3 separate regions of the Homo sapiens genome follow, and regions 2 and 3 are each linked to region 1. Evidence: fine-mapped expression QTL. A gene starts in region 1. Each other region holds a variant in brackets. All regions are shown on one strand. Distances are from middle to middle.

Evidence for each region. PIP is the estimated chance that this variant, and not a neighbour inherited with it, causes the effect.
Region 2: its variant is the best candidate, but not a certain one, in a credible set for the expression of TACC3 in monocytes after R848 (Quach 2016, PIP 0.67).
Region 3: its variant is the best candidate, but not a certain one, in a credible set for the expression of TACC3 in whole blood (Lepik 2017, PIP 0.77).

What each region holds. Positions count from the first base shown.
Region 1 is chr4:1,716,794-1,726,745 of GRCh38, reverse strand. It overlaps TACC3 (transforming acidic coiled-coil containing protein 3), which reads right to left and starts at 5,225. Exons shown (of 16, transcript NM_006342.3): 1 at 5,103-5,225; 2 at 3,163-3,325; 3 at 2,876-3,018. The coding sequence starts at 3,324. It overlaps TMEM129 (transmembrane protein 129, E3 ubiquitin ligase), which reads left to right and starts at 5,423. Exons shown (of 4, transcript NM_001127266.2): 1 at 5,423-6,113; 2 at 8,120-8,594; 3 at 9,071-9,230; 4 at 9,318-9,952. The coding sequence starts at 5,909. The coding sequence ends at 9,566. RefSeq lists enhancers at 4,395-5,390, 6,473-6,572, 7,213-7,292 and silencers at 5,013-5,822, 5,833-5,882.
Region 2 is chr4:1,391,151-1,401,102 of GRCh38, reverse strand. It overlaps a transcript of UVSSA not described here. Among named protein-coding and RNA genes, the nearest start is that of NKX1-1, 10 kb to the left of the region's middle. RefSeq lists enhancers at 5,126-5,866, 5,467-6,666. The variant C/G (reference allele first, on the strand shown) is at 4,833.
Region 3 is chr4:1,741,176-1,751,127 of GRCh38, reverse strand. TACC3 (transforming acidic coiled-coil containing protein 3) reads right to left here. Exons shown (of 16, transcript NM_006342.3): 14 at 6,504-6,610; 15 at 6,296-6,416; 16 at 5,957-6,180. The coding sequence ends at 6,115. Among named protein-coding and RNA genes, the nearest start is that of TACC3, 25 kb to the right of the region's middle. RefSeq lists a silencer at 2,107-2,306. The variant T/GT (reference allele first, on the strand shown) is at 5,116.

The sequences.
Region 1 (9,952 bases):
CTGTCCCCTGCCTATGCTCCAGGGCCTGGCCCCAGTCCTCTGTGTGGCCTCCAGCCTGCTGTGGGCCTGTAAGTCATATAATCATTATTTCCGCCTGTGTTTCTCCTAATCACTGAAGGGTGTGCACCACTTAATGACCCTGAATTCTAACATTAAGGGACCTGACAGCATTCCGATAACACTTTAATCTGCGTGAAAACATCAGCTACAAGCAAAACAAGAAAGCTCAGTCAACATTGTCCTGTGGCTTAAACCTCACCCGAGGACATGCCCAACAGATCAGTCCTGGGGACTTGCAGGCCCCAGGATGGCCAGCAGGGGGCGTGGTAAACAAAGGTTTTCTGCATGAATCTGCTTTCCCCTTCAAGTCGGGGACTGGCAGTGCTGTGGCCAGGGACAGTCAAAGCCTTCACTGAAGGGCAGGGCTGAGGTGCAGGATGCCACCTGCAGGCACAGAAGGACCTGAGTGGCCTCTGCGACGCCTCCCTGGGATGGCGCCTGCTACAGTGGAGTGGCACAGGTGCAGAGAACACCTTCCCAGGGACCCACCTGTCTCTGGGGCACTCGCTGCTCACAATGTGGGACTGCATGGCGCAGGGCCCCTGACAGAAGAGGCGGCTGTTGGGATGGTTGGGGCTGGACTACAACACAGAGGGCACAAACACTGTTTCACCTGTTCCCCAGCCTTCAGGTCCCTGAGAAGACGCAGGGTCATGTGCCAGTGCCTCAGATAAGGGGCCCATGTCACCTGCCCTTCTCTTCCAACTCTAAGTTTGAAGATGTCAAAACTGAGAAACTGAGGGTGAGGGACCTGTCAGACTGCTCACAACTCCTCTGCTGCCCAGCTGCCACCTTGGGGCGGCACTGCCTTCCCAGGCGGCCACTCGGCTGTCCTCTGAATGACACGTGGGCAGCTGCACGCAGCGGCTGCTCTTGGTCTCATCCCACTGACGTGGGAGCACCACAGTGACCACCACCTGGGCCTCAGCAGAGTTCCAGAAAGGAGATGACAGCCACGAGTCCAAGCCACAAGCTCAGAGTCACTCTGGCTGGAGCCCCTCAGGGCCAACCTCTCAAGCCCCTCCCAGCTCCTCTACACCCTCTGCCCTATGGAGGCTGCTGGGTGATCCTGGAGGCATAGGGGAGAGGCAGGGGATCTGTGGCTCTGGGACGGATCACACCCATGGCAGCTGGGAGGCGACTTCTCTGCTGCTGGGTCTCCCTTCCTTCTTGGGGTCGTTGTAAACCAATGTTTGATTCATTCTCGCTTCGTTTGACCAAATTTCAAAAGGGGCAAAAAACAAAGTTGAAAAGTAGCAAGCAGACATGGGAAGAACTGCAAATTCAGGCTGGAGGGGTAGAGGGGAGACGGACCCAGGGCCCAGAGAAGGATGTAGGAAATGCTGCCTGCACTTACTGGTGACATTTTATCTCAGGGGGTGAGAAGCATCAGTGGTATTCTGTTCCTTATGCTTTTCTCTGCACATCTAAAATCTGCTTAAAAGTTTTGGGCCAGCCGGGCGTGGTGGCTCATGCCTGTAATCCCAGCACTTTGGGAGGCCGAGGCCGGCAGATCACCTGAGGTCGGGAGTTCAAGACCAGCCTGACCAACACGGATAAACCCCATATTTACTAAAAATACACAAAATTAGCCAGGTGTGGTGGCGCATGCCTGTAATCCCAGCTACTCGGAGGCTGAGGCAGGAGAATCGTTTGAACCTGGGAGGCGGAGGTTGTGGTGAGTTAAGATCGCACCATTGCACTCCAGCCTGAGCAACAAGAATGAAACTCCGTGTAAAAAAAAAAAAAAAAAAAAAATTGGCCGGGCATGGTGGCTCACAGTTGTAGTCCCAGCTACTAAGGAGGCCAAGGTGGAGGACTGCTTGAGCCCAGGAGGTTGAGGCTGCAGTGAGCTGTGATGGCACCACGGCACTCCAGCCTGGGTGACAGAGCGAAACTCTGTCTCAAAACAACAGCAACAACAGTTACATCAGCAAAAAACCAACAGAAAATCATGCCTCTGGGGTCCCTTCCCACCCTGGATGCAGATGAGGTGTTCCTGGGTGCCCAGACAGATTAGTTCAGCCGCAGAGTAAAGAGCTGCCACCAGGATCCTCCCTTTCTAGGCAAAGACAGACACCGCCTCGCCATCCACTTGCAGTTAAGAATCAGGTCGGCTAAAAAATTAGCCGGGAGTGGTGGCGGCGGGCGCCTGTAGCCCCAGCTACTCGGGAGGCTGAGGCAGGAGAATGGCATGAACCTGGGAGGTGGAGTTTGCAGTGAGCCGAAATCGAGCCACTGCACTCCAGCCTGGGTGACAGAGCCAGACTCTGTCTCCAGAAAAAAAAAAAAAAAAAAAAAAAAAAGTGAAGTATGAAGTTATCCAAGTATCTGATGATCGACTTTTCTGTTAGTGAACTGGCCATATGCTGCATACACTCAGTGCAGATTTCAGGAGAAATCCAGCCAAGGCCGGCCGGGCGTGGTGGCTCACACCTGTAATCCCAGCACTTTGTGAGGCCAAGGCGGGCGCATCATGAGGTCAGGAGGAGATCAAGACCATCCTGGCTAACACGGTGAAACCCCTTCTTTACTAAAAATACAAAAAAATTAGCCGGGCGTGGTGGCAGGCGCCTGTAGTCCCAGCTACTTGGAAGGCTGAGGCAGGAGAATGGCATGAACCTGGGGGGCGGAGCTTGCAGTGAGCGGACATCGCGCCACTGCACTCCAGCGTGGGCAACAGAGCGAGACTCCATCTCAAACAAACAAACAAAAAATCCAGCCAAGGCCTGATAGAACAAGACAGCACTTTCCTGCAAGAACCATCGGACAGAGAGGGTGAAGCTCCAGCATGTCCAGCAGCACCAACACTTACTTCTCTTTCTGTGTCCAGACCGGGTGTGAGTTTTCCAGTCCAAGGGTGTCATCCTGAGTGAAAGGAGCCTCAAGTTTGCTGGCCATGCTAGGACTTAGAATCCTGTGCGTCTGTGGATCCCGCAGAGGTGTCTGAAAAGTCACCTGTTGCGGAGTGAGGAGGAGAGCACCTATTCATTAGTTCAAGCTGTTACAGCCACACCAGCAGTGTCCTGCAGCTCAGAGGTCACCAAGAAAGCAGGCCCTAGGGCAACCTGGCCAGCCACACACTGTACAGGTCACACTTACCTTCATAGCTTTGGCCAGGTTCTTGGGTGGCACATTTTCTTTCTGTGACACACGAAGAACAGACGATCTTCCGGTAACTTCTGGTGGCGAAAACAGGAAGTCGCAATTTTCTGTATTTTTTTCATTGCTGACATTTTTGTCGTTTAAGACCTGCAGACTCATTCTGGAAAAGCAGAACATGTTTGTGTCAGTGTGAGGGCAACACTACCACATTGTCCAGACACAGACGTGACAGCTGCTGCAAGGGGCACGACCACTTCCCACACAGGTGTGCTCATTGCTCTGGAACTCACACCTCCCACACGTGTCTCTTGGCAGAGAAAGCCTCAGACTGAGTCCCCATCTTGCTTCAGAGACTCACTCTCCAGCCTGGCAGGGGGAGCCATGGGCAGCACTGCTGCTTCCTGGGACCAAGAGCTAAAGGGCCTTCAGGCTGAGATGGTGAGAAAGAAAACCCAAGCCTGCATAATCTCTACTGCTGTATTACTATATCAAGCAGAAGTCAAGAGACGGAAAAGCCCGGGCCAATAAGAAACCCGGATGAGCCAGAGGAAGCCCTGGTCTCCCCACAGGCCTCTGCGTGTGACGTGAGGCAGGACCGGGCAGTAGAGGGCAGAAAAGCAGGACAGCGGCTCTGGTCTGCTCTCTCCCACCGGGCTAGGCAGCGGGACAAGACCAGGCTGAGAGGGTGAAGGCCCAGAGGAGGAGCTGGGAGACGATGCGCAAACAAGGGAAGCCCAGAGCTGAGCAACAGGTGCCAAGGAACTTCCACATCAGAGCCTCCAGTCAGTCCCAGGTTCCAGGGCTGCCCAGGTCCTCACGCCGGTCACCCACACACTTGCCACCCTTTCTGTCTACAGCGTTCCCAGTCTAGGGAATGACGTAGGGAAAAAGGCTGCCAGAGAGAACCGAGTGTCGACCAGGGCAGGAACCCCACAGGCACCTGGTGGTGGAGGGGGACCTGGGGAGGCTTTGATTTGAAGAAGAGCAAAGTTGGGGAGGGTCCTGGAGAAGAGAGAGGGGGCAGCCCCGGCAGGTCGGTGCTGCAGCTTGAGAAGCCCACTGTGGTGCTGTGTGTGGGTGGGGAGGTTAAGAGCAGAAGGGAAGCAGGGAAACCACAGGCTTCTGGAGCCCAAGGAGTAGATGCCAGACCAGACCCGGGCCTGGCCACTGGCACATATGGGACTTACGGACGACGCTTAGGTTTTCGCCCTGAATAACTGGGTACAGGGCAGGGGAAGGGGTGCTGGATCGCTGGGGGACCCGCAAGCCTCGAACTCAGGGAGAAAGTGACTCGGAGGAAGCCTTCTGGCGGCCTGGAGGAGCTCGGGAGAGCAGCAGACCCAGCCTTAGTCAGGAGGGGCCTTTACTGACTATGGAGGCCCGGGAGGGGCTCTGGGCAGAGAAGGGACCGGCCCCAGGCTGGTGCTTTGGTGCTACTCTGGTGCACAAGAGGGATGCGGTGCGGGGGGAAGGTGGAGCGGCGCAGCAGGTGCGGGGAAGCGGTAGGGGCCCAGGTGTCCGCCGCAGGCGGCCTAGATGGAGTTGGCCCCAGGACGGAGGCCGGAAGGGACCAAAGAACAACAGGAGGGTCCGCGTGCTGGGAGCCAACAAAGAGCCAAGGTGGGCGACCGAGAGACAGGAGAGGGTCGAGGAGAGCAAAGCACCTCGGGGCGCCCGCTCCGCCGTCGGTCTTGGCCCAGCTCTAGCCGCCCCTGGCCACCATCCAGGGGGCCCAGCCCGGCGGTCGGTCTAGGGCCGGGTCCCATGACAGGGCGCGGTACAGGTTCTGGCGGCGGCCCCAGGAGGAGCCGTGGGGGACGCTTCCCGGGGAAAGCGGCGGCCGGGGCGGGAGGGCGAGGGCCGAGGGCGGGGCGGGGCGGGACGGCCTCGCGCCCCCAGGACCCCAGCCTCCCCGCGCCGTGTAGCCGCTCTCCTACCTGCCCGCCCGCCCGTTGCCGGGCTCTGAGCCCGCGCCGCCGCCGCCAGGAAGGAGGGGTCCGCGTCTGCTCCACGCCGGGGGCCAAGCCTAGCTGCTACCGCCGTCGCGCTTCTAGCCCTTGATGGCCGCCGGCGCGCCGGAGTTTCAAACGCCGACGGTTGCCTTCGCGCGGCCAATCAGCGCGCGGCCGGGGGCAGGACCGCAGGAGGGCGGGCGTCCAATGGGAAGCTGTGCCTCGCCGGCTCCGCCCTCCCTCCCCCCCCACCCCCCGCTCGGGCGCCGACGGTTCCGTTTCCGGAGTGGAGGGCACGCCAGGGTGTCTGAAGCTGAGACCCCGGGCTCGCAGTCGCCCCATGAATTTCGAGTTCCGCAACTGACGCTACTGGGCGGGGCTTCATGGCCAGGGCCTCGCTCAGGCCTAAGTTTCCCCACCTGTGCTCAATGCACAGGTGCGGTGCCGCCTCCAGGGCCGGCCGAGAAGAGAGGCCGCACCCGCACGGGGACTGCATCTCCCAGAGCGCCCCGCGAGCGGCCGAGCGGCGGGACTCCATGCCCTAGAGTGCCCCGCGGGCGGCCGGGCGGCGGGACTCCATGTCCTAGAGTGCCCCGCGGGCGGCCGGGCGGCGGGACTCCATGTCCTAGAGTGCCCCGCGGGCGGCCGGGCGGCGGGACTCCATGTCCTAGAGTGCCCCGCGGGCGGCCGGGCGGCGGCCGCCGCAACCGACAGGTCCGGGACTGGGCGCTGCGGCCTCGTCCGCGCGCCGGGGCGGGGGCCTAGCTCGACAGCTTCCCGGCGGCTGCGCGATGGACAGCCCCGAGGTGACCTTCACTCTCGCCTATCTGGTGTTCGCCGTGTGCTTCGTGTTCACGCCCAACGAGTTCCACGCGGCGGGGCTCACGGTGCAGAACCTGCTGTCGGGCTGGCTGGGCAGCGAGGACGCCGCCTTCGTGCCCTTCCACTTGCGCCGCACGGCCGCCACGCTGTTGTGCCACTCGCTGCTGCCGCTCGGTGAGGCTGCTCGGGCCGGCCGGCCGCATCCTCTCCTGCGCAGGGCTTGCTGGGAGGTCAGGAGGAGGCCTCCGCCAGCTCCCCGAGGCCCCGAAAGCGCCTGGGCGCAGCTGGGGAGAGGCGCCGGTCCTCATCCAGAGGGACCGCGGCGTGGGCTGAGCGCGCTTAGGGGCGCCGCCGGCACTGACTTGCAGGTGACGGGAACCCAAGTTCAGAACCTTGGGCAAGGGATGCTCCGGCCCACCAAGTCCTGAACCGTCACGTGCCTGGGGGTTGCAAGGCCAAGCAGCCCTTGCTTGTCGTGGTTGGGGGCAGTGGCCAGGAGAAGGCAACTGTTGATTGAGTCCAACGGAAGGGGTCGGAGGGGCTGTGTGGAGGGTGGCACTGCACTAGGCCTTGGAAGGTGGGTGTGGAGAGAACAGGCGGATTTGGAGGCAGTTCCAGTTTGGGGGCGCCACAGGGGCAGAGGCTGGGGAGGGCCTCTGTGCAGTGCAGGTGGGACGCTCAGAGTTGTCCAGGGGGGTGCTGGGCTGGGCCCCAGGTGCTAGCTGGGGCTCTGGAAGGTCCCTCTCTCAGCTGATTGGATGACGGACAGGTGGGAGGTGGGGTGTGCAGTGGCTGGAGGGGGATTTCAAGGGGGTACCTCTGGAGGACACGGGGGCAGACGCAGCCCTGGGAGGACAGATGGCCAGTGGCTGGCCAGGTTTGCCACTCTGGGGATACAAGAGGGGTGACCCTCCACATCCTGGTTTGAGGATGCAGCTGCCTGGGCCCAGAAGAACTGGAGGCAGGTGTCGGGTGGAGGCGCCCAGGCCTGCCTCATGGAGAGGGTGGGCTGGGGGCCCACTTGAGAGATGGATGGGGCTGAGTGGGGCTGGGGCCCTGACCAGGCCACTTTCTAGGGCTACTGGGTGGGTTTCTGTAGCCCTTCCAGCTGCACCCTCCCCAGAGGCCTATGAGGGACCACAAGTGAATTGTGGCAGCCACACCTGGAGCAGACAGCACAGCTGGCCTCACAGTCGGATGTCAAGCTCTTTTTATTTTTAACTTAGTTTGAAAGTTTTCAAGCTTTATTAGGTATTAGTTACCTGTTTTATTTTTATTTTTACTTTTTGAGACGGAGCCTCGCTCTGTCACCCAGGCTGGAGTGCAGTGGCATGATCTCGGCTCACTGCAACTTCGGCCTCCTGAGTAGCTGGGACTACAGGCGCCCGCCACCACGCCCGGCTAATTTTTTGTATTTTTTAGTGGAGATGGGGTTTCACCGTGTTAGCCAGGATGGTCTCGATCTGACCTCGTGATCCGTCCGCCTCGGCTTCCCAAAGTGCTGGGATTACAGGTGTGAGCCACTGCACCCGGCCCCTAGTTACCTATTGTTATATGTCATGTTACCTTGAAATGCAGTGACTGGGCCAACTCCAAATGTGGACTATTACTTTTTGCCAACTGGAACCTGCTGGTGCAACTCCTCACCATCTCCATGGCTTATTTGGACCTTCAAATTGTCCTCGATCTGGCCAGCAGGGCCCTGAAGCTGGCTCCGTGTCCTCTGGACATGTCCCATCATTCTTTGAGACTTGCTTCCTTTCTCGCACATAACTTTTCAGCTCTGGGATGCACCACATTTGATCAGCCTCCTCAGAGCGGGTGAGATTGAGAGACTGAGATCCTGTCCAGGCAGCTGCCCTGGCAGGCCAGGGGTCAGCTCTGCCTGAGGTGACACCTGATTGTGTTTATTTTTCCCTTTCTAGGCTTTTGTAGTTTTTTCAACACTTACGTATTGTGTGAAACTAAAGCAGCAAATTAAAAACCTTTTCCGCTAATATATCCTGCCTTTGCCACAGGCAGGGAGAGAGTGGCCGGCTGGGGAAGTGCAGAGTGGGTAAAGCCCAATTACCCTGGGAGCTGACCCTGGAACCCGGGCAGAGGGCCAGGTCCAGGGCTGTCGGGGGGTGGACAGCGGCCTGCCACTCACTTTCCCCTGAGGCTCACCCTGTCCTTTGCAGGCTACTATGTGGGCATGTGCCTTGCGGCTTCAGAAAAGCGGCTCCACGCCCTCAGCCAGGCCCCTGAGGCCTGGCGGCTCTTCCTGCTGCTGGCCGTGACCCTCCCCTCCATCGCCTGCATCCTGATCTACTACTGGTCCCGTGACCGGTGGGCCTGCCACCCACTGGCGCGCACCCTGGCCCTCTACGCCCTCCCACAGTCTGGCTGGCAGGCTGTTGCCTCCTCTGTCAACACTGAGTTCCGGCGGATTGACAAGTTTGCCACCGGTGCACCAGGTGCCCGTGTGATTGTGACAGACACGTGGGTGATGAAGGTAACCACCTACCGAGTGCACGTGGCCCAGCAGCAGGACGTGCACCTGACTGTGACGGAGTCTCGGCAGCATGAGCTCTCGCCAGACTCGAACTTGCCCGTGCAGCTCCTCACCATCCGTGTGGCCAGCACCAACCCTGCTGTGCAGGCCTTTGACATCTGGTAAGAGTGTGGTGCCTGTGGGGCTGCGGAGGGCACATGGCAGGCCAGAGCCAGGCTCTGGTGCCACGACCCCTGGGAGGTGCTGGGTGTAGCTGGTGTGGACTCCAACACTCCTGGGCTTGTGTGACACCAGGCAAGGTGTCCACAAGACACCAGTCACTGAGCCCTCCCGCATAGCCCTCCCTCGGGTCCCCCTGCACTCTTGGCCTCCCCTTCCACTCCCTGGAGCCACCTCCCCCAGATTCTTGGGGAGCACTCAGGACAGTGCAGCCCTCAGGCTGGACAGCTGCCTTGCTCCTAGGTCCGTCCCGTGCCCAGGCTGGGCTGTCTGGCACTGGGTCCGTGGGCTCTGGCCTTAGGGCCATCTCTCCTGGTTGGTCCTGGTGCGACAGCTGCCCTGTCACTCCTTGGGGTGTAGCCTCCATCTTCCGCTCCCTTTGCCCTGCAGAGGGGCCCAGCAGCTCTCCTCCCTGCAGGCTGAACTCCACTGAGTACGGGGAGCTCTGCGAGAAGCTCCGGGCACCCATCCGCAGGGCAGCCCATGTGGTCATCCACCAGAGCCTGGGCGACCTGTTCCTGGAGACATTTGCCTCCCTGGTAGAGGTCAACCCGGCCTACTCAGTGCCCAGCAGCCAGGTGGGGGGCCTGGGCCAGGGCCGGGTGGATGGGTGGGTGCCCACGGGTGTCTGCCTGGGCTCCTGGTGACGCTCCACCTGCCCGCAGGAGCTGGAGGCCTGCATAGGCTGCATGCAGACACGTGCCAGCGTGAAGCTGGTGAAGACCTGCCAGGAGGCAGCCACAGGCGAGTGCCAGCAGTGTTACTGCCGCCCCATGTGGTGCCTCACCTGCATGGGCAAGTGGTTCGCCAGCCGCCAGGACCCCCTGCGCCCTGACACCTGGCTGGCCAGCCGCGTGCCCTGCCCCACCTGCCGCGCACGCTTCTGCATCCTGGATGTGTGCACCGTGCGCTGAGTGGGCTGGGGCCTTGAGGTGACTCTGTGTCTCCCCCCAAAGCCACAGGGCAGGGAAGGGGGTGGCTGGGCCTCCTGGCTGGCAAAGGGCTCTACTTAAAGCACATGATGTAGAGCAACTCGCCTCTGCCCTGGGTCTGCAGAAGGCTGAGGACTTTTGGTTAAAAGCAATCCTCATGAAAACACCCCACCCTGCTTGGCAGCCAGGGTACAAGTCCTGGGCACCTCCTCTTTGCCTCCCTCCTGCCCCTTTCCTGCTGGTGGGGGCAGATCCTGCACACACAGACACAGCGTCTGCCCCCGAGCCATTCCCTGGAGACCCTGGGTCTACCCCAGGTGGTCGTCATCTGGGCCATTTGCCTTACTTCTCTGGAGCATACCCACCCT
Region 2 (9,952 bases), 330 kb after region 1:
GCTTGCTGGAACATTCCAGGAGCTCACAGCCCCACAGGGAGATGATAGAAGGTGGCTGCGACGGTGCAGGCCAGATTCAGACCCACTCAGAGCCGGGCCAGACCGCTGTGTGCAGCCCTCCCATGGAGCTTAGATCCTGGCTCCCCGTCCCTCCAGCTTCCACATGCCCCCACCCTGGCCTCCTCTGTCTCCTCCCCTCAAGCCTCAGCCAGAAACACAGAGCCACACCGGAGGGCCCTCTAGCAGTGCCCCTGGGCTGCAGGATGGGATGGAGGGTATGGGCCGGGGGCTGTGAGGTCTGGGAAGCAATACCCCCCTCCTTGCACCACCCCTTCTCTAAGCTCCCTGGACAGCCCACAGCCTCATGCTGCAGGCATGGGGGGCATTTCCTCCAGTCTCTGATTCACAGTCACTCTGCAGCGGACCCTCGTCGGAGTCGGACTGCGTGCAAAGCCACCTGAGCCTCCCACTGTGCTTTGCTGAGAGTCACATGTGGGAAACTGAGGCCCGGCAGTCATGGGGCTTGCTGGGGGCAGTGCCAGCTCTGGTGCCAGTGGGTGCCCTGCTCCCTCCTGAAGGAGCCTCCACTTTTTAGCCCACACTCCTACTGGGTCCCCAGGCCCCCAGTCTCCCTGGGAGAGTTGGGGAGCCATTCCCTTGCCTGCCTCCCAGGGAGCCCTCGGGCTGCCCCACCACCCCCATTTCCACCAGGTTTGGGCCTCCCCTGCCCGCCATTTCCAGTCTAGGCTGCCTGTGCCTGACTCAGTTTCAGCTCCCTGGGCCTGTGCTGCAGGCAGAGGTGAGCGGGAGCCTTGTTAGGGGTCTCAACGTGTCCCCCACTTTGGTGTCAGGGCCGTGAGGGAAGGTCTCAACCTCAGGATCTGAGGGCACTCTTCCATGGACCCTCCTCCTAGGGCTCAGGACCCATCTTGCCCTGGACCACACCTGCCCCAAGTTCCCAGAACCACACACATGTCGTTGCTGCAAAGCCAGGCACAGAAGGGGCCTCTTGTCAAGCGAGCATGAGCCCAGACAAGGGCGGCGTTTGCTCTCACGCCCTGGGCTCCCGTCTCCTGCCCAGGGACCGCTGAGCCCAGACGGTAAGGGGCCTCCCATTGAGGCCACCTCCCCACCCCCACCAGCCGATGGTGCTGTGGTCCATTGCTGTGTGGGTCAGGCCTGGGTTTGGCTGCGTGTAAGAGAAAACCTGAATGAAGAGAGTTGAAAGGAGACTGTTTACTTTCTCTTTGTGAGGGAATTCTGGCCGTGGCAGCCCTGGGCAGTTTTGAGACCTTCACTGAGTCCTTGGAGACCCAGCTCCTGGCTCTCTGTGCTGCATCAGGCCTGGACGGGCCTCAGCCTCACAGAACCCAATGGAAACTGAGGCTCCAGCCACCACATCCTCACCCCCGGCTGCAAACAGGAAGAAAGGGAGTGGCCAGCAACACCCCTCTCTTTTAAGGAGCTTTCCCGGAAGCCCACACAACACAGCTGCTTATGTCCCATTGGCCAGAGCTGGGTCACGGGCCCTCTCTTAGCCAAGGGAGGCTGGGAAGTGCAGTCTCCCCCCAGGCATCTCACTCCTAGTGAAAGGTGAGGATGGATTGGGGCCACCGGCTGCCCCTGCCGAGCCCCCCTGTGCTCCCCACCCATGCCCACCTGCCCACACCCCCAGCCCCAGGCAGCTGGGCTTCTGAAGAAAGTCGCCCTCAGCCCGCCTGGTCTTTTCCGAAGCCCAGGGCCTCGACCTTGGTGGGCACCCAGCTCCTACACCCTAAGGTGTCTGGTGTACCCTCTCCATAACCCCACCCTGGGTTGGCCACAGGTCCAAGCCCATCTTCCAGCCATAGGATCTTGTCACCTGCCTGCGTCCTGCCAGGGGAGACAGCCCCTGCTGGGCTTCAGATGCGTCCAGTGTCTCCAGGCTTAGGCATAACCCTCCCTGGACCCCGTGTGGCCTCCAGCTCTCCCCCTTTCCTCCCAGCCTCCAGCCAAAGTATCGAAAGAGCCGTCTACACCTGCTGTCTACACTTCCTCCTCACTTCTCCACCCCTAAGGAGGCTCTCGCCGTCACTCGGGCCCTTGGCTGCCCCATCCTGGCGTGGCCTCCTCAGCCCCCTGCTCACTTGGTGGCTGGTTCCTCCTGCTCCGAGTCCTGGGCAGCCTGGGCTTGGGGAACCCTCATCCTCCACTTGCCTTCCTGCCATGGCAATGGTGTGCCTGGCCCTGTCCTTGCCCCGCGATGTCCTGGCAATGGTGTGCTTCTCCCTGTCCTTGCCCCGCAGTGTCCTGGTAATGGTGTGCCTCGCCCTGTCCTTGCCCTGCGATGTCCCCCCGGGGGCCAGGGGCCCTCCAGGCACCACAAAGCCAGACCAAGCTCCTCCCAGACCAAGCCAGCCCCACAGCCTCAGAGCAAACCCCAGGCACCAAGCACCCTCCCCACATCCAACCCAATCTACCCATATCCAGATGCCCGAAAACACCCTGCATCCAACCTGATCTACCCACATCCAGATGCCCGAAAACACCCGGCATCCAACCTGATCTACTCACATCCAGATGCCCGAAAACACCCTGCATCCAACCTGATCTACCCACATCCAGATGCCCGAAAACACCCGGCATCCAACCTGATCTACCCACATCCAGATGCCCGAAAACACCCGGCATCCAACCTGATCTACCCACATCCAGATGCCCGAAAACACCCGGCATCCAACCTGATCTACTCACATCCAGATGCCCGAAAACACCCTGCATCCAACCTGATCTACCCACATCCAGATGCCCGAAAACACCCGGCATCCAACCTGATCTACTCACATCCAGATGCCCGAAAACACCCTGCATCCAACCTGATCTACCCACATCCAGATGCCCGAAAACACCCGGCATCCAACCTGATCTACCCACATCCAGATGCCCGAAAACACCCGGCATCCAACCTGATCTACCCACATCCAGATGCCCGAAAACACCCGGCATCCAACCTGATCTACCCACATCCAGATGCCCGAAAACACCCTGCATCCAACCTGATCTACCCACATCCAGATGCCCGAAAACACCCTGCATCCAACCTGATCTACCCACATCCAGATGCCCGAAAACACCCTGTATCCAACCTGATCTACTCACATCCAGATGCCCGAAAACACCCGGCATCCAACCTGATCTACCCACATCCAGATGCCCGAAAACACCCTGCATCCAACCTGATCTACCCACATCCAGATGCCCGAAAACACCCGGCATCCAACCTGATCTACCCACATCCAGATGCCCGAAAACACCCTGCATCCAACCTGATCTACCCACATCCAGATGCCCGAAAACACCCTGCATCCAACCTGATCTACCCACATCCAGATGCCCGAAAACACCCGGCATCCAACCTGATCTACCCACATCCAGATGCCCGAAAACACCCGGCATCCAACCTGATCTACCCACATCCAGATGCCCGAAAGCACCCGGCATCCAACCTGATCTACCCACATCCAGATGCCCGAAAACACCCGGCATCCAACCTGATCTACCCACATCCAGATGCCCGAAAACACCCGGCATCCAACCTGATCTACCCACATCCAGATGCCCGAAAACACCCTGCATCCAACCTGATCTACCCACATCCAGATGCCCGAAAACACCCTGCATCCAACATCCCCCCTGGCCACCGCCACGTTGTCCCCCCATCCCTAGGACCTCCCTGCGGTGCTCAGGCCTCCCCACACCCAGTGTCCTGCTTGTGATGGCCACCTGGGTCCCCCATCTCTTCCCTGGTGACTGAGTGCCCCCTCACTCCTGGTCTCTTCTGGCCAGCTGTGCACAGCGTCAGCTGGGAGGCGGGGAGGTGAGGCTGGACGAATAGCTCAGCAGCAGAGGGAGGTGAGCACAGGGAGGAAGGGGCAGGGGTGGGCAGCCAGGCAGGGCTGCAGGACTGCACCTGAGGGAGGAGGCAGGGCTGAGCCCCATCCCTGCCCTCACGACCACTGTGGCCCCCACCTGCCTCTGGCACTGTTGCCCCTCCCCCATCCCAAGGTCACCTTTTCATCCACAGAGGCCCGTGGGGTGGGGGCATCTCATCCACTGGGGGGGGACCTTGCTCATGGGTGACAACCTGGGGATGTCCATGTCCCACCTCCTCCCGACTGCCCTGCAGTGTGGTCCCCTTTGGAGACAGCTCTGCTGGTGCAGACGCCTTCTCTCTTTCCCTGGGAGGCTGTGGCTGAGCGCTCATCTCAGATGAGCTGAGCTCCACATGTCCTGCCTCTGGGGCAGCAGGCAGCTGGGTGCTGCCTGTGACTAGGTTCTGGCCAAGTCGACATGAACAGTGTGTGTGGGGGTAGGGGACTGAGAAGGCTCCTTATGGGAATCAGCTCAGAGGGGAGGCAAAGCCCTCCTCCTTCCTTCTGCAGACCTGGTGATGGCTGGAGCCCCAGCAGCCACCTTGGGCCATGAGGTAGCCTTGGGGTTGGAGGCCACGTGCTCTGATACTGAGCCAGGAACTGGAAGGTGCTTGGGGGCGCCTACCCTTGGACCCTGATTCAATAGGACACAAACCCTTCTGTCTACGAGCCACTCTTATTTGGAGTTTCTGGTTCTGTGTTGCTAACCCTGACACCACTTTCCATGGTGGCCCATCCACCCCAGCGCTGGGGCTGTGACCCATGCCCACCAGTCCTCCCTTGGTCACTCCTCGCACTCACCCCCTGCTGCTCTCCGGGCCAACCTCAGCCAGTCTGCCCTGGATGAGGGCAGCAGCATGCTGGACCAGCTGGCACGGGCCCCCTCCCACTGTGAGCCGTACCAGTAGCCCCTACGTGCAT[C/G]TGCAGGCCAGACCCCCCCAGGCTCCTCCCCCCGCCATCTGCCTGGCTCATGGGGACCCAAACCACTTTGTGGCAAGTGTGGGTGGAAGGGGTTTGCTGAGGGGATCTGAGGAGGGCCCACCCCCAGCACCCCCTTAGTGCCAAGTCACTGACAGTGCCCTGAGCCCGCAGTGCTGGAGCTGCTCCCAGGTGCACAGGCCCCACCCCTCACCCCACCAGCCAGAAGGGCCGGCCCAGCACCCCCACCCCACAGGGCCCCTCACTTGGTCACAAACACTGAGTCACAGGTTTGTCTTTTAATCAGCATCCATGAAAATTCATTAAAAGGTCTGATACGAAAAGCACCAGGCTAACAAATCAGTCCTGAATTCAATTTTACAAAAACACCCTCTCCTCTTCCATCTCATCCCTAATATTCCTACGTTATCTCGAGGTGCAGAGAAATATAAAAGGGATCCTTGACATAAAAACGTATTAAAAAGCCACCATGAGTAGAATGTACGGTAACAGCGTCTGACTCGGCCGGCAGGACAGGAAACCTACAGAACCACCATGCCAGGGCTTTGTGTGAGCAGGCGGGCACTCCACATGGGCACGTGTGTGAGCAGGCAGGCACTCCACATGGGCACGTGTGAGCAGGCGGGCACTCCACATGGGCACGTGTGTGAGCAGGCGGGCACTCCACATGGGCACGTGTGAGCAGGCGGGCACTCCACATGGGCACGTGTGAGCAGGCGGGCACTCCACATCGGCATGTGTGTGAGCAGGCGGGCACTCCACAATGGCACGTGTGAGCAGGCGGGCACTCCATATGGGCACGTGAGCAGGCGGGCACTCCACGTCGGCACGTGTGAGCAGGCGGGCACTCCACATGGGCACGTGTGAGCAGGCGGGCACTCCACATCGGCACATGTGAGCAGGCGGGCACCCCACATCGGCACGTGAGCAGGCGGGCACTCCACATGGGCACGTGTGAGCAGGCGGGCACTCCACATCGGCACGTGAGCAGGCGGGCACTCCACATGGGCACGTGTGAGCAGGCGGGCACTCCGCATCGGCACGTGTGAGCAGGCGGGCACTCCGCATCGGCACGTGTGAGCAGGCGAACACTCCACATGGGCACGTGTGAGCAGGCAGGCACTCCACATCGGCACGTGTGAGCAGGCGAGCACTCCACATGGGCACGTGTGATCAGGCGGGCACTCCACGTTGGCACGTGTGAGCAGGCGGGCACTCCACATGGGCACGTGTGAGCAGGCGGGCACTCCACGTCGGCACGTGTGAGCAGGCGGGCACTCCGCATGGGCACGTGTGAGCAGGCGGGCACTCCGCATGGGCACGTGTGAGCAGGCGGGCACTCCGCATGGGCACGTGTGAGCAGGCGGGCACTCCGCATCGGCACGTGTGAGCAGGCGGGCACTCCACATGGGCACGTGAGCAGGCGGGCACTCCACATGGGCACGTGTGTGAGCAGGTGGCACTCCACATCGGCACATGTGAGCAGGTGGGCACTCCACATGGGCACATGAGCAGGTGGGCACTCCACATGGACACGTGTGTGAGCAGGCGGGCACTCCACATGGGCACGTGTGAGCAGGCGGGCACTCCACATGGGCATGTGTGAGCAGGCGGGCACTCCGCATCGACATGTGTGAGCAGGCGGGCACTCCACATGGGCACATGAGCAGGCGGGCACTCCACATGGGCACGTGTGAGCAGGCGGGCACTCCACATTGGCACAAAGCGAGGGCTCATGCATAAGAGGTGCAGGGACACCTGGACAGCTATTTGAAATTTAAAAACTGGGTTTCCTGGCTCACATTTTGTATCAAAAACTAGAAGTAGATCAATGATTTCAATATGAAAATGAAACCCATAAAAGTACTAGAAGAAAACATGGAAAACATTTCAAATATAATCTTTAAGGGGGAAGAGCATTCTAAGTAGAACACAAAACTTAGAAGCCAAGAAAGATTGATAATTCAACTACATAACTCATGAAAGGAAGATCTGAGGAACGAGATGCCCACAGTGGCCGCTGAGAAGCTCTGCCACACTCCTGGAGGCATGGAAGGCTGTGCCCACACAGGCACAGAGCTGTGTGTGTGCCCGAGAGGAACCTGAGCTGCCCTGGCCCTCACCTCTGGCTGGCTTTGTGGCTGTGTGCAAGTAAGAAGTGAAGGCAAAGGCACAGTTGGCAGCTGCCTGCTGGAGCACTGACCACATATCAACTGCGTGTCAGCAGAACCGCGATGGAGCGCTGAAGGCACACTCACCATGCATCAACTGCGTGTCGGCAGAACCGTGAGAGTTACTGGTGCAAAGCACTTAAAGGGGTCCTCTGTCCAGTCACTGGCTGAACATGAAGCTGATGAGGTGGACACTTCAAATTAGTCCAGAACACACACTAAACAAAAGGTAACAGCAACAGAACAACAATAAACTCGTGGAGAGGGTATCTGATTTCCAGAGTTGCACAGCACATTATTAAAGTGTCCAGTCTTCAAAAAATACATATATATGAGACCACAAAGAAAGAGTATGTTATTTCCTTGGCTCTGACATGGGAAAAAAGGTCATCAATAGGAACTTCCCCTGAATAAGCCCTGATGTTGAACTTAGTAGACAAGTCACCTATCTATCTTATCTTATCCTATCTATCTATCTATCTATCTATCTATCTATCTATCTATCTAATCTATCTATCTATCTAGTTTTGAAAGCGTCTCGCTCTGTGGCCCAGGCTGGAGTACAATGGCTTGATCCTGGCTCACTGCAACCTCTGCCTCCCGGGTTCAAGCAATTCTCCTGCCTCTGCCTCCCAAGTAGCTGGGATTACAGGTGCACACCACCACGCCCGGCTTAGACAAGTACTTTAAATCAGCTTCTACACATATGTTCAAATAACTAAAGGAAACTGTGTCTACAGAATTAAAGTATGAGAATGTTTCACTAAACAAAGAATATGAGTAAAGATACAGAAATTATAGGAGAGAGCCAAATGGAAGTTTGGAGTAGAAAAGTACAATAACTGAAATGAAAAATTCACTAGAGCAGCTTGACATCAGGTTTTGTTTGGCAAAAGCATCTGTGACCTTGAAGATAGGTCAACTGAGATGACCCATTCTGAGAAGAAGAAAAAATTCCGGAATAAAGGAAAGTCAAGGAGGCCTCCAAGGCTGTGCCCAGCTCCACATCAACACACGTAGCTGGAGTCCAAGTGGGGGAAGAGAACATGGACATAAAATATTTCGAGAAACGACAACCTAAAATTTCCCAAATTTGCAGAACCACAATGGAGCGCTGAAGGCATACTCACCACACATCAACTGTGTGTCAGCAGAACCATGAGAGTTACTGGTGCAAAGCACTTAAAGGGGTCCCCTGTCCAGTCACTGGCTGAACATGAAGCTGACAAAACCGAAGGATTCAATACCCACATTCAATATCAATATAACTAGGCAGAAGATCAATAAGTGAAGAGAAGATGTAAACAATCAGACTACAAGAAATATTAACCTCTATATCCAAGAAGCTCAAAGAACTGCAGGTAGGACACACTGAAAGATCCACAATTAGACACACCACAGTCAAACAGTCAGAAGCTAAAAAGAGACTGAGACATGGTGCGGTGCTCCCGCCATGGAAACCACAGATGCCAGAGGCAGTGGAATGACATCTATAGAGGACTGAAAGAAAAAGAGGGCCAACCAAGTCAGCCATATCCAGCACAATTATTCTTCAGAAGAGAAGGAAAAATTACAACATTCTCAGATAAACAAAAACAAAGAGAATTCATTGCTAGAAGATCTGTCCTACAAGAAATACTTGAGGCTGAAGTCCAAGACACCACACTCAAATCCACACAAAGAGCACCAAAAAAGACAACTGCAAAGCCAGCAACAGAGACAGCAGAAACTCATTTCTGTTTGTACATCTTTTCTTCTTCTATGTGATTTAAAAGACAACTGCATAAAGCAATAATTACAAGACTGCTGACGGACTTACAATCTAAAAGGTAGCATTTATATGACAAATACAGCACCAAGAAGCTGAGAGGAAACAAAGCTACTTGAAGTGAAGGTTTTTGTACATTATATTAAGTTCATCTGAACACTTGATTGGTTTTACGTTGTTACTGTAATACTCAGAGCAGCTGCTAAGAAAGTTACTTTTAAAAAAACCCAGTAAAACAGACAAGGAAATTACAATGTTACAAGAGAATTAAATGTCCATTTAACACAAAAAAGTAATGGAGAAATAAAGGAAGAAAGACAAAAAAGACAATATAGTAAACAAATTTAGAAATGGCAGATACAAATCCAACTTTCTCAGTAATCACACTGAATGTAAATGGATTAAACATCCCTCTCAAACAGCAGAGACCAGCAGGACAGATGAAAAACATGATCCCACTATGTGCTGTCTACAAGAAACACACTTTTGATTCAGAGCAGAGACCAGAAAGACAGATGAGAAACACTATCCTACTATATGCTGTTTACAAGAAACACACTTTAGATTCACGGCAGAGACCAGCAGGACAGATAAGAAACATGATCCCACTATATGCTGTTTACAAGAAACACACTTTAGATTCAGAGATACAATGAAAGTTAAAGGGTGAAAAAAGATACCATGCAAACAATAATCAAAAAAGAGCTAAGTGGCTATACTAATAACATACAAAAGGGACTTAAAGACATTTTTTTTTCACTAAAGACAAAGAAGGACATGTCATAATGATAAAAGGGTCTGTTCATCAGAAAGAAATAGAAATACAGATGCACTTAACAGAGCTTCAAAATTTATGAAACAAAAGCTGACAAAACTGAAGGATTCAATACCTCACATTCAATATCAATATAACTGGGCAGAAGATCAATAAGGGAAGAGAAGACATAAACAATCAGACTACAAACCAATCAGACCTAACAGGCTTCTATACAACACTACAAACCAATCAGACCCAACAGGCTTCTATACAACACTACAAACCAACCTCTGACCCAACAGGCATCTATACAACACACACACCAACCTCTGACCCAACAGGCATCTATACAACACTACAAACCAACCTCTGACCCAACAGGCATCTATACAACACTAGAAACCAA
Region 3 (9,952 bases), 24 kb before region 1:
TACTCCCTCTCCTCCTCACCCTCCAGCCCCCCACGGCCTTGTCACCAACCGGCATGTTCCATGGGAGTGGGTGTGTGTGTGCCTGCACCTGTGTGTTTACTGGTTCCTTCACGCTGCTGCTCCCCACCCCGCCCCGGCCAGAAGATTCTCACCACAGGCCTGTTGTGACTGTCCTGTCCTTGCCATGCCCAGAGCCTGGAACAGTGCAGGGAACAGAGATGGTGCTCAGTACACATTTGACATGTGAATGAATGAGTGTGTGTGGAGAAGCCTTCGAATCTCAGGGTTCTACCTCTACCTTGACCGATGGAGACACTGGGCTTCACTGTGGGCACAGGGGGGTCGGGGTGAGGGTCTACCCAGGGCCAACTGTATGGCACCTGCCCCACCCCAGCCAGGACTGCCTGGCACCAAGCGGGGCTCCTGCTGTCAGGATGCTCTAGGTGGGGTGTGGCCTCAGCCACCGGGCATGCAGGGGGCAAGGGTGGGTCACCACACGCCCTGGGCAGAAGCCCTGGGCCTTCACACTCCACTCTGCCGCTGGGCCCCTGTGGGACGCTGGCAGCTTGGCCTCCCCAGCACTGCCCTGGACCCACCCCACTAGGCTGGGAAGGAACTCCCTCTGGGAACCCCTTGGGCTCAGAGCAGCCCCGGCTCTGCCCATACAGGTGCGCCCCTGCAGACGCCCCCTTGGGATGGTGTCCACACCGTGGCTCTGCCGGAACAGCCTCCCACATCCCCAGTCTCTAAGTGTGGACGGACATGGGGCCTTTGGACACCAAGTGGCCGGGCCACCACTTATCAGCAGAGGCAGCCCCCAGCCCACACAGGAACCCTTTCTTTGAGGGTCCAGAGGCCCGGGGCCTGAGTGTCTCACTCACAAACAGCCCTCCTCTGCCCACTGTCCCTCAGAAGCAAACATAAGTGCATCCCCCCGCCCCCTCCTCTCTCTGCAGAGTGGGCCCCAGAGCTCCTGTGAGCTCAGCCAGGTGGGGCCGTCCGTGTCAGTGGGGTTTGGGGAGACGGGTGCGAATGGACATCGAGGGACAGAGGAGACACAGGGCAGGGGCCCCGCCCACCCTGATGTCTGCAGGGGCTCTAAGCCCTCACCTCACCCCTGCTGGCCTGGAGGGAGGGGCCTGAGTGGAAGGGAGGCGGGGACTGGGGGCGGGGACCGTGGGGTGGGGGTTCCTGGAGCCTGCACAGTTGTTCCTTCATTCATTTGACACACTTGCAAACTGTGCAGCCTCAGCCTGGTGTTTGGAACCGGGCTGGGGCAGACGCGTTCGAGGGGCTGTTTCTTGGAGTCTGGTCCATGCCTGCAGAATTGCAGAGTTGGAGGACCCAGTGAGTACCACTGGTGGTTCAGGCTGTAGAGCGCCATATCCCCAGCCACCCAGTTACAGGGTGTGTTCCCAGAACCCAGCTGGGCAGGGTTGGGTAGGGAGGGAGGGATTGGGCCTTGCCAGGGCCCCCCTGTCCTGCAGTCCCCCTATCAGGCTAGGCCAGACCCTCAGCTAGCGAGGGTGCCTGGTGTGCTGCCTCCAGCCCTGCATGGCCTGAAACCTCCCAGTCCCCAGCCCTGCCCTCCACAAACCTCCAGGGGTCTGGTGAGTGTGCAGGGTCCAGGGAACAGAGGGGAGGCAAAGTCGCAGTGAGGGGCTGGTGGGGAGGGGGTGGTGAGGAGGGGGCATAGTGGGGAAGGGGGAGGTGGGGGGGGCTATGCTGAGGAGGCAGGTGAGGAGGGGGCAGATGGGGAGGGGGCATGGTGGGGAGGGGGCACAGTGGGGAGGGGGCGTGTTGGGGAGGGGGTGCCTTGGGGAGGGGGGGCAGTGGGGAGGGGGCGTGTTGGGGAGGGGGTGCATTGGGGAGGGGGCGCAGTGGGGAGGGGGGAGGTGGGGAGGGGACAGGTGAGGAGGGGACAGGTGGGGAGGGTTCGTGGTGGGGAGGGGGCAGGGGGAGGGAACAGGTGGGGAGGGGTCGTGGTGGGGGGACAGGTGGGGAGGGGGCGTGATGGGGAGGGGGCACGTTGGGTGGGGAGGGGGCACGGTGGGGAGGGGGCGTGGTGGGGAGGGGGTGCGGTGGGGAGGGAGAGCGGTGGGGAGGGAGAGCAGTGGGGAGGGGGCAGGTGGGGAGGCCCTGTGGGGAGGCCTGGTGCGGGCCCAGGTGGCTCCTCGTCGCCCCAGGGTGGGGGCCCCTCCTGGAGGCCTGTGGCCAGGCGGTAGGAACAGCCTGGCAGGAGTGCGGTCGCGCCGGGTCTGCAGAAGGGGCTCCGGTGGCCCAATGGCGCCCCCTGCAGGCTGTTGGGGTCCAAAGGCTCAGGCAGAAGCCCCAGGAGTTCGGGGTCCCCAGAGCTCGGGGGCAGCCAGGACGTACACGTTCCACCCCTCCAACCCACGGCACAGGTGGCACGCGCACCTGCTACTGGAGCACACCCCAAGGAAGGCCTGGGCTCGGGCAGAAGCCCCTCCTTGGACCTCGTCCAGCCTCAGCCCTGTGGGGACAGGGCTTTTCCCTCACGTGCTCCAGCTTCCTGAGCGGCTGCTGGCCCGGTCCTGCCCCTCACAGAGCTCCCTAAGAGAGACAAGGGATGTGCGCTCAGCCCACCAGGGCAGTCCGGCGCGGCGCCGGGGCTTAGTCCCCAGGCCTCCGGGGGTCCTTCCCAGAAAGTGGAGTGATGGGCTGGAGGAGGGACCTCCGGCAACCACGTGGGCTTGCAGCGACCCTCACTGGCATGGACCTTGGGGACCGAAAGGGGTCTGGGGTTCAGCCTGGGCTGGGGACAGCTCCTGAGTCCATGGGAGGGTGATCTGGGTCTGCCTGCAGGCTGGGTGAACTCTCTCCCGGGGCTCAGGCTGGGTAGGGCAGGGTGGGGGCTGCAGAGGGGTGCCTGGCAGGGAACGCTCGGGCTGTGGTCAGCTTGTCCTGGCCTATCTCCCTCGCCCCCACCCCCTCTTCCATCCAGCCTGGTGGCTGGCGGCCCCTGGAGAGAGCATGGGGGCATGGGAGTGAGCTTGGAGGGGCAGCCCCACCGGCCCTGTTGAAAGGGTCTTGACCAGCCCAGGGAGGCAGCTGCAGGTTCCACTCCTAGGTGGCCTTAGAGGGGTGGGGGTGCCCCACAGACCTAGCTTCTCCATGTGGGCTGAGCCCTGCACTCCCCTCGGGATTTGGATATTGGCTGCAGGGGGAGCTGGGCAGTGGGTGGGCACCAGGCTGGACAGCCCCTCGGACGGCGGGGTCTCATCCTGCCTGGGACCAGATGGCTTGCACCACAGACACGTGTTTCTCTGGGTTCTGGAGGCGCCAAGTCCGCCATCAGGGTGCTGGCGGGTCAGTTCCTCCAAAGTGCTCTCCCGGCCTGCTGCCTTCCCGCAAGGACACTAATCCCAGCAGACCAGGGCCTCACCCTCACGACCTCGTCTAACCCTCACCCCTCCTTCCAATGGGGCACGTCGGGGGGGTGTTTCTGAGCCCTGCCCTGAGCTGTGGGAAGGGCAGAGCCGAGCGCTGCCTCCATGACTGTGTATGAGGACTCCCACGGAGGCAGCCCCCAGGACAGCTCCTGTTTCCTTGAGCCCCCCACAAGGCGACTGCGTGGATGTGCAGGGGGTCCGGGGCTGCGGAAGTCCAGGCCACGGCTGCGTGCCCAGCTCAGGTCATGTTTACCAGGCAGGCCAGTGCCAGGGCCCCCGCCCGGCCTCGCAGCCCTGAGTTAACTCAGGCTCCAGGATAAACACCCATTCAGCCACACAAGGCCCCTTTGTCCTGGGAGAGAGGCTCCCGGCCCAGGACGCTGCCTGGTGGCCGGTGTCCTCGGCGCGGCCCCAGGCCCGGCCAGGTGCCCTGACACGTTCAGCCGCCCTGCACGGCCTTCTCCGGGCAGGCTCCCGGCTTGGCTCAGAGAGGCCCCAGCAGGGGACAGGGCCCTGGGCAGCTGTCAGAGGAGCCAGAAGGCCAGACCGGCAGGGCTGAGTGAGGAGGAGGACCTGGCAGCCGCCTTGTGTCCTGAGACCTTGTCAGAGCAGAGCTGACCCGGCAAAGAGAGGTGGGAGTCCTGCGGCCGGACATGCCTGTGGGCAGCGGGGAGGCCGAGGCGGGCCGTGCTGCCCATAGGGCAGCTGGTGAGCTCTGGAGGCTCGAGGGCCCTTCTTCTCCCCCATATCCTCAACCCCAAGCAGGAGAGGGGGCCCACACCCTGTGCTTGGCCCGTCTCCCCCGGCCAATGGCCACTGGTCTGTGGGCCTCGGTTTCTCGTCTGTGAAGTGGGCCACGGAAGGCTCTCAGAGGCCCCTCAGCCAGGGATTACACCCTATTGTTACCCAGGCTCGGGGCTGAGATGGGGGTTGCTGCCCACGGGAGGGAGGGGCGCGATGGTCCTGGGAAGCCAGTCAGGAGGTGCCGCAGGAGCACAGGTGGGCTGTGGAGGGGGAGGGAGTGGCCCCCAGGCCCCCCTGAGGCTGGCCCAGTCCCTGCCCCAGCCGTGACTGGCCATGGCCCGCTGTGGCCGTCCATCCCTGTGCCAGGCCCCCTCCTCCAAACGTGCTAAGAACAAATGCACCCTCATGCCCTTGGGGACACCCCACTGGCCACCCAGGCTGAAGCCCCTGCCCGCCCCTCAGCCTCCCTGGCGGTCCATGCGGCTTCTTGGCACCCGTGCCCCGCCCCTTCAGGGTGTCACCCACCTGGTCCGGTCCCTGCATGGCCCATGGCGGCAAGCGACCCCTGGCGGCGGCTGGGGGTGTTGTTGCGCCCACCCGAGGTCAGTACTGCAGTGCTGCTCACCAGGCCAAGGGGCAGACTCGCAGAGCCTTGGAAGCAGGTCCTGGGACTGCAACCCCCAGGCTCAGACACTACTGGGGCCAGGTGACTGCGGCCAGATCTCGGCCTGGGTCCCTCCCTATGTGGGGAGCCCCACTCTTCACTGATGGGAGAAAACGGCTTTTCTGGACGGCGTGATCTGGGCACAGCAGCAGCACCGACCCCTGGAAACAGGTTACAGCGTCAACCCTTGGTCTTGCCTGGCCCCTCAGGAGGCCCTGGCCCTCTGGCTGGTGCTGGGGTCCTAGGTGCCATGGCTGAACCCAGTGACCAGCATCTCTCAGCTCGGTACCCAGG[T/GT]TCCCGGGATGCCCCAGCTGGGCCAAGCCTCTGCCTGACCAGAAGGGCTCCTGGAACTGCCTTGGGTTCCAGTGTGCCTGTCTGAGTTTGAGATCCGCAGGACGGGACTGCTGGAGATGGGGTTAGGGTCGGGGAGGAAGCCCTGCCGTGTGGAGACAGAACTTCCTCAGGGAAGCCTGTTTTGCTCTGAAGTCTCCACGCCCCCAAGGACGAGGACGACAGGAGCTGAGCAGCTGCACCTGCAGGGGGCCTCCCTCCACACCCACACCCAGGTGAGCGCTCAATTAGCTGGGGCTGCAGGCTCGCCAGGTCGGCACCAGAATCAGAGCCACCGGCATGCATGCCTGGCTGTTCACAGTTTTTGTTTTATATGAAAACTTCCCCGTCTCTACTAAAAATACAAAAAATTAGCCGGGCGTGGTGGCGGGCGCCTGTAGTTCCAGCTACTCGGGAGGCTGAAGCAGGAGAATGGCGTGAACCTGGGAGGCGGAGCTTACAGTGAGCCGAGTTCACGCCACTGCACTCCAGCGTGGGTGAGAGACTGTCTCAAAAAAAACAAAAAACAAAAAAACAAACAAAAAAACGAGTCCATTTGGACTTTGATGTGTGTACCTGAGGCCAGGACCATGTAGCCAACCCGAGGTGGCCGGGGCAGACTGGGCAGGCCTGAGCCTCCTCTATCCACTGGCTGTCCCTGCCCCTCGGCAGGGTGGCCTGAGCCTGGGGTAGGCAGGGACCAAGTGGCCAGCTCTGAGGGGAAGGGAGGGCACCTGCGGGTCGGCTCAGCCTCAGGCTAGAGCTGGGAAACCTTTGCTTCATCAAGACCAGAGCGGCTTCAGTGTTTAAATTGAAAGGAAACTTTTATTGAGTCATGTTTTCAAAGCAATCTAGTTTTTAAAAAAGTTGAAGACAAGACAGAAAAAAGAACATGACACCTAAGAGAATCAGACAGGACAGACAGACGGGAGCAGGGGGGCGGGGACAGCGGCTCCGTGGAGGTCAGATCTTCTCCATCTTGGAGATGAGGTCGTCGCAGATCCTGGTCAGCTCCTCGTTCTCTTTAGTCTGGAGGAGGAAGATGAGTTGCGGGGCTTCTCCCTGCTTGGAGGGAGCAGCAGGCCCAAGGGCCTTCTAGAAGGTGCTGCCAGACGGCCCCTTGAGCTGGGCTTCCCGCACCCACCTTCTGCTCCACTGTCTTCTCCAGCGACTGGATGCGCATCTGCTCCTTCCTCAGGCTGGCCTGGAGGGCCAACGCTTCCGCCTGGGCCTTGCTCCGGACCTGGGCGATCTCCTCGTTTGCCCTGGAGGGGTAGGGGCGGGGCAGAGGCTGAGCTGGGGCCCAGGTGCTCAGATTCTCCCTCCAGGGTGGGGCCTCGCCCAGCACTCACAGCTGCAGCTTCTCCTCCGCGTGGGCCTTCAGGGCTTGGTACCTCTGGCCCTCCTGGGTGATCCTTGCCAGGTAATCCTCCACGCACTTCTTCAGTGACTCTTCGTTCTAGGAAGGGGCAGGCATTAGCTGTGGGTACCACGCCGTCTGCTGGAGAGCACCCAGGCTTGGTGTCTGGGGACCTGCAGATCCTCGAGGCTGTCTGGGGCATCAGCCGTGAGCCAGTAGCTCCCGTTTTCCTTTTGGAAAAAGCCCCTTCACACAAGTTCCCAGCTCACCCCCTCTGGAGGTTCAGGACAGCCCTGGCTCTCCACCCTGAGATGCCGGGCCTGAACCTGGTGCCCTCACGGCTGGGCCCCCTCCTGCCACACCTGCAGCCTCTGCTGGCACCAAGTGCTGCTGGAAAGTGGGATGCACCTGGGACCACTGACAGCCCAGCCCGTCTCCCTCTGGAGCTGAGCCCTGTGCTTTGGGGACAGGCAGGGGAGGCCAGCAGGAGCCACATGGTTACCCAGACACGCCTGCTCCTCACAGGCTGCTGCCCCCTCTGGGGGCACCTTCCGCTCAGTGACTGAGAAGCCCTAACTGAGGGGTTCCTGGGTCCCCGAGTGGCCTCTGCTTGGGAAGGCTCAGCCTACCTGCCTTCTTCCTGCAGTGCCCCCAGCGGCCTCACAGCCCAGCCATCCTCACTCCTCTGTCGCAGCCCTGTATCCCAGAAGCACCCTCAGCACTGCAGCCTCTCCCTGAGCCCCTACCCAGCATGCAGCCCCTGATGTCCTGCGGAGGTCACGCCTCCCTTAAACCCACAGCACTGTGTTTCTCTGCTGTGGAAAATTCCCAACAGCGTCTGTCCGGGAGGCGGCATCCGGAAGCTCTCACGTGTGCACAGGTCAAGCCTCCCGCCACAGCGGCGTCTCTCCCTCTGGCTCTGGGGGCTGCCGTCCACACACTGGTTCCCAACTCAGCCTCTGCTTCCCTCATCTGACCTGTACCCTTTGAATTGTTAATGTTGTTAACTGTGTACCTGTTAGAAATTTCCATTTGGTTCTTTTCTAGTTTCTGTTTTTTTTTTTTAGACGGAGACTCACTCTGTCACTCAGGCTGGAGTGAAGTGGCATGATCTCGGCTCACTGCAACCTCCGCCTCCCGGATTCAAGCGATTCTCCTGCCTCAGCCTCACAAGTAGCTGGGACTACAGGTGCGTGCCACCATGCCCGGCTAATTTTTGTATCTTTAGAAGAGACAGGGTTTCACCATGTTGGTCAGGCTGGTCTCAAACTCCTGATCTCGTGATCCACCCGCCTCGGCCTCCCAAAGTGCTGGGATTACAGGCGTGAGCCACTGTGCCCAGGCTTTTTTTTTTTTTTTTTTGAGACGGAGTCTCGCTCTATCGCCAGGCCATAGTGTGATGGCGCGATCTTGGCTCATTGCAACCTCCACCTCCTGATTGATTCTCCTGCCTCAGCCTCCCAAGTAGCTGGGACTACAGGTGCCTGCCACCATGCCCAGCTAATTTTTGTATTTTTAGTACAGAAAGGGTTTCACCATGTTGGCCAGAATGGTCTTGAACTCCTGACCTCATGATCCTCCCGCCTTGGCCTCCCAAAGTGCTGGGATTACAGGCATAAGCCGGCCTAGTTTTTCTGTATTTTTTGTTTTCTGAGAGAGTCTCGCTCTGTCGCCCAGGCTGGAGTGCAATGGTGCCATATCGGCTCACTGCAACCTCTGTCTCCCAGGTTCAAATGATTTTCTGTCTCAGTTTCCTGAGTAGCTGGGACTATAGGTGCACACCACCATGCCTAACTAATTTTTGTATTTTTTTTTTTTGAGATGGAGTCTCACTCTGTCGCCCAGGCTGGAGTGCAGTGGCACGATCTTGGCTCACTGCAACCTCTACTTCCTGGGTTCAAGTGATTCTCCTACCTCAGCCTCCTGAGTAGCTGGGACTACAGGCAAATGCCACCCTGCCCAGCTAATTTTTGTATTTTTAGGAGACGGAGTTTCATCATGTAACCCAGGCTGGTCTCGAACTCCTGACCTCAAGTGATCCACCCGTCTCGGTCTCCCGAAGGGGATTCTTTTCTAGTTTCAAGGTCTCTATTGAAGCAATACTCTTCTGAATACAGAAGACAATTACTTTAAAGTCTGCACTGGGTCGTCCAAGATGGGATTAGATGTGCAAAGGAGCCTCCATGAGGAAGTAGGGAGGTGGCCAGTGGGAGCTGAGGCACAGGCCTGCCCCGGGGAGAGGCGAGGCCAAGGCAGCTGCTCACACCACAGCCCAACCTGAGGGAAGGTCAGCAAAGCCGCTGTGTCCTCAAGCCAGCAGCACCGTGTGAAGAGTCCTGCCTCTCCAAGCGTCTGTGCTGGGCCAGACTGCTGTACTCTGCTGCCGGTGGGCACTCTGCTGCCACAGGGCCCTTCCCATCTGCTCCCTGCAGACCTGAGGCACCACCTGCCGGTGCCAACTCCAGCGTCTGGGGCTCCTGTGGGTCTATCAACAGTTTTTGTTTTTGTTTTTTAATTTTAGAGATGGGGGTCTTGGTCTATTGCCCAGGCTGGGGGTGCAGTGATACAATCATGGCTCACTGCAGCTTCGACCTCCCGGGCTCAAATGATCCTCCCACCTCAGCCTCCCTAGTAGCTGGGACCACAGGTGTACATCACCATGCCTCACTCTAATAACGGGTCTGATTTTCACTCATGTTTCCTGTTCCTTTCACACTTGGTTATTCTGTGCCAGACACTAATTTAAAACTGCAGCAGCAATTTAAAGCATAAGATACCTTCTTCCCTAGAGTATTCAGGCTTGCTTCTGTTAGGCAGCTGGGCCCCAGCCACTGACACCCACCTGACTTCAGGACTCAGATGAGGTGTGGCTCAGCAGGCCCTGCAAGGGCCGCTTTTCCAGTTTAGTCTGACTCCCAGGGGACCCATCTGGTGTCCCCAACCCCCTTGCACCAACAGTGACAGCCCCTCTTCCAGCTGCACCTGCAGGTCCAGCTCCTCCACAGGAGGCGTTGAGCACCTCCGCTCCAACATTGCTGCTGTGGGCAGAACCCTCTGGCGGCCTCGCAGGCACCTTCCAGGCCTGCTCTGGGCAGATGGATGGCCCAGACATCCCTCCTTCCAGCAAGCATGTGGGCCTTGCCCAGCACAGAAGGTGGGGGGCGCTCAGAGTCCCGTGGCCAGGAGGACACCAGGGTGGCCTTGCACAGCCGTGACCACCTTTCAGTGGGCCTCCCGCCTTGGATACTGCATGCCCTGGGTCCCCAACCCTTGGGACCCAAGCGCTCGGACAGCCCAGACACCTTTCCGAGGTGCCCCAGGCCCCGGTGCACCAGCGCTGTCTCAAATCTCACAGATGCCTGATCATAGCCGAGTCGTCTGTCACACAACAGCGGACGGCTCAGATGGCCTCCCTGCTCACTCTGCCTCCTGCCGCCCTCA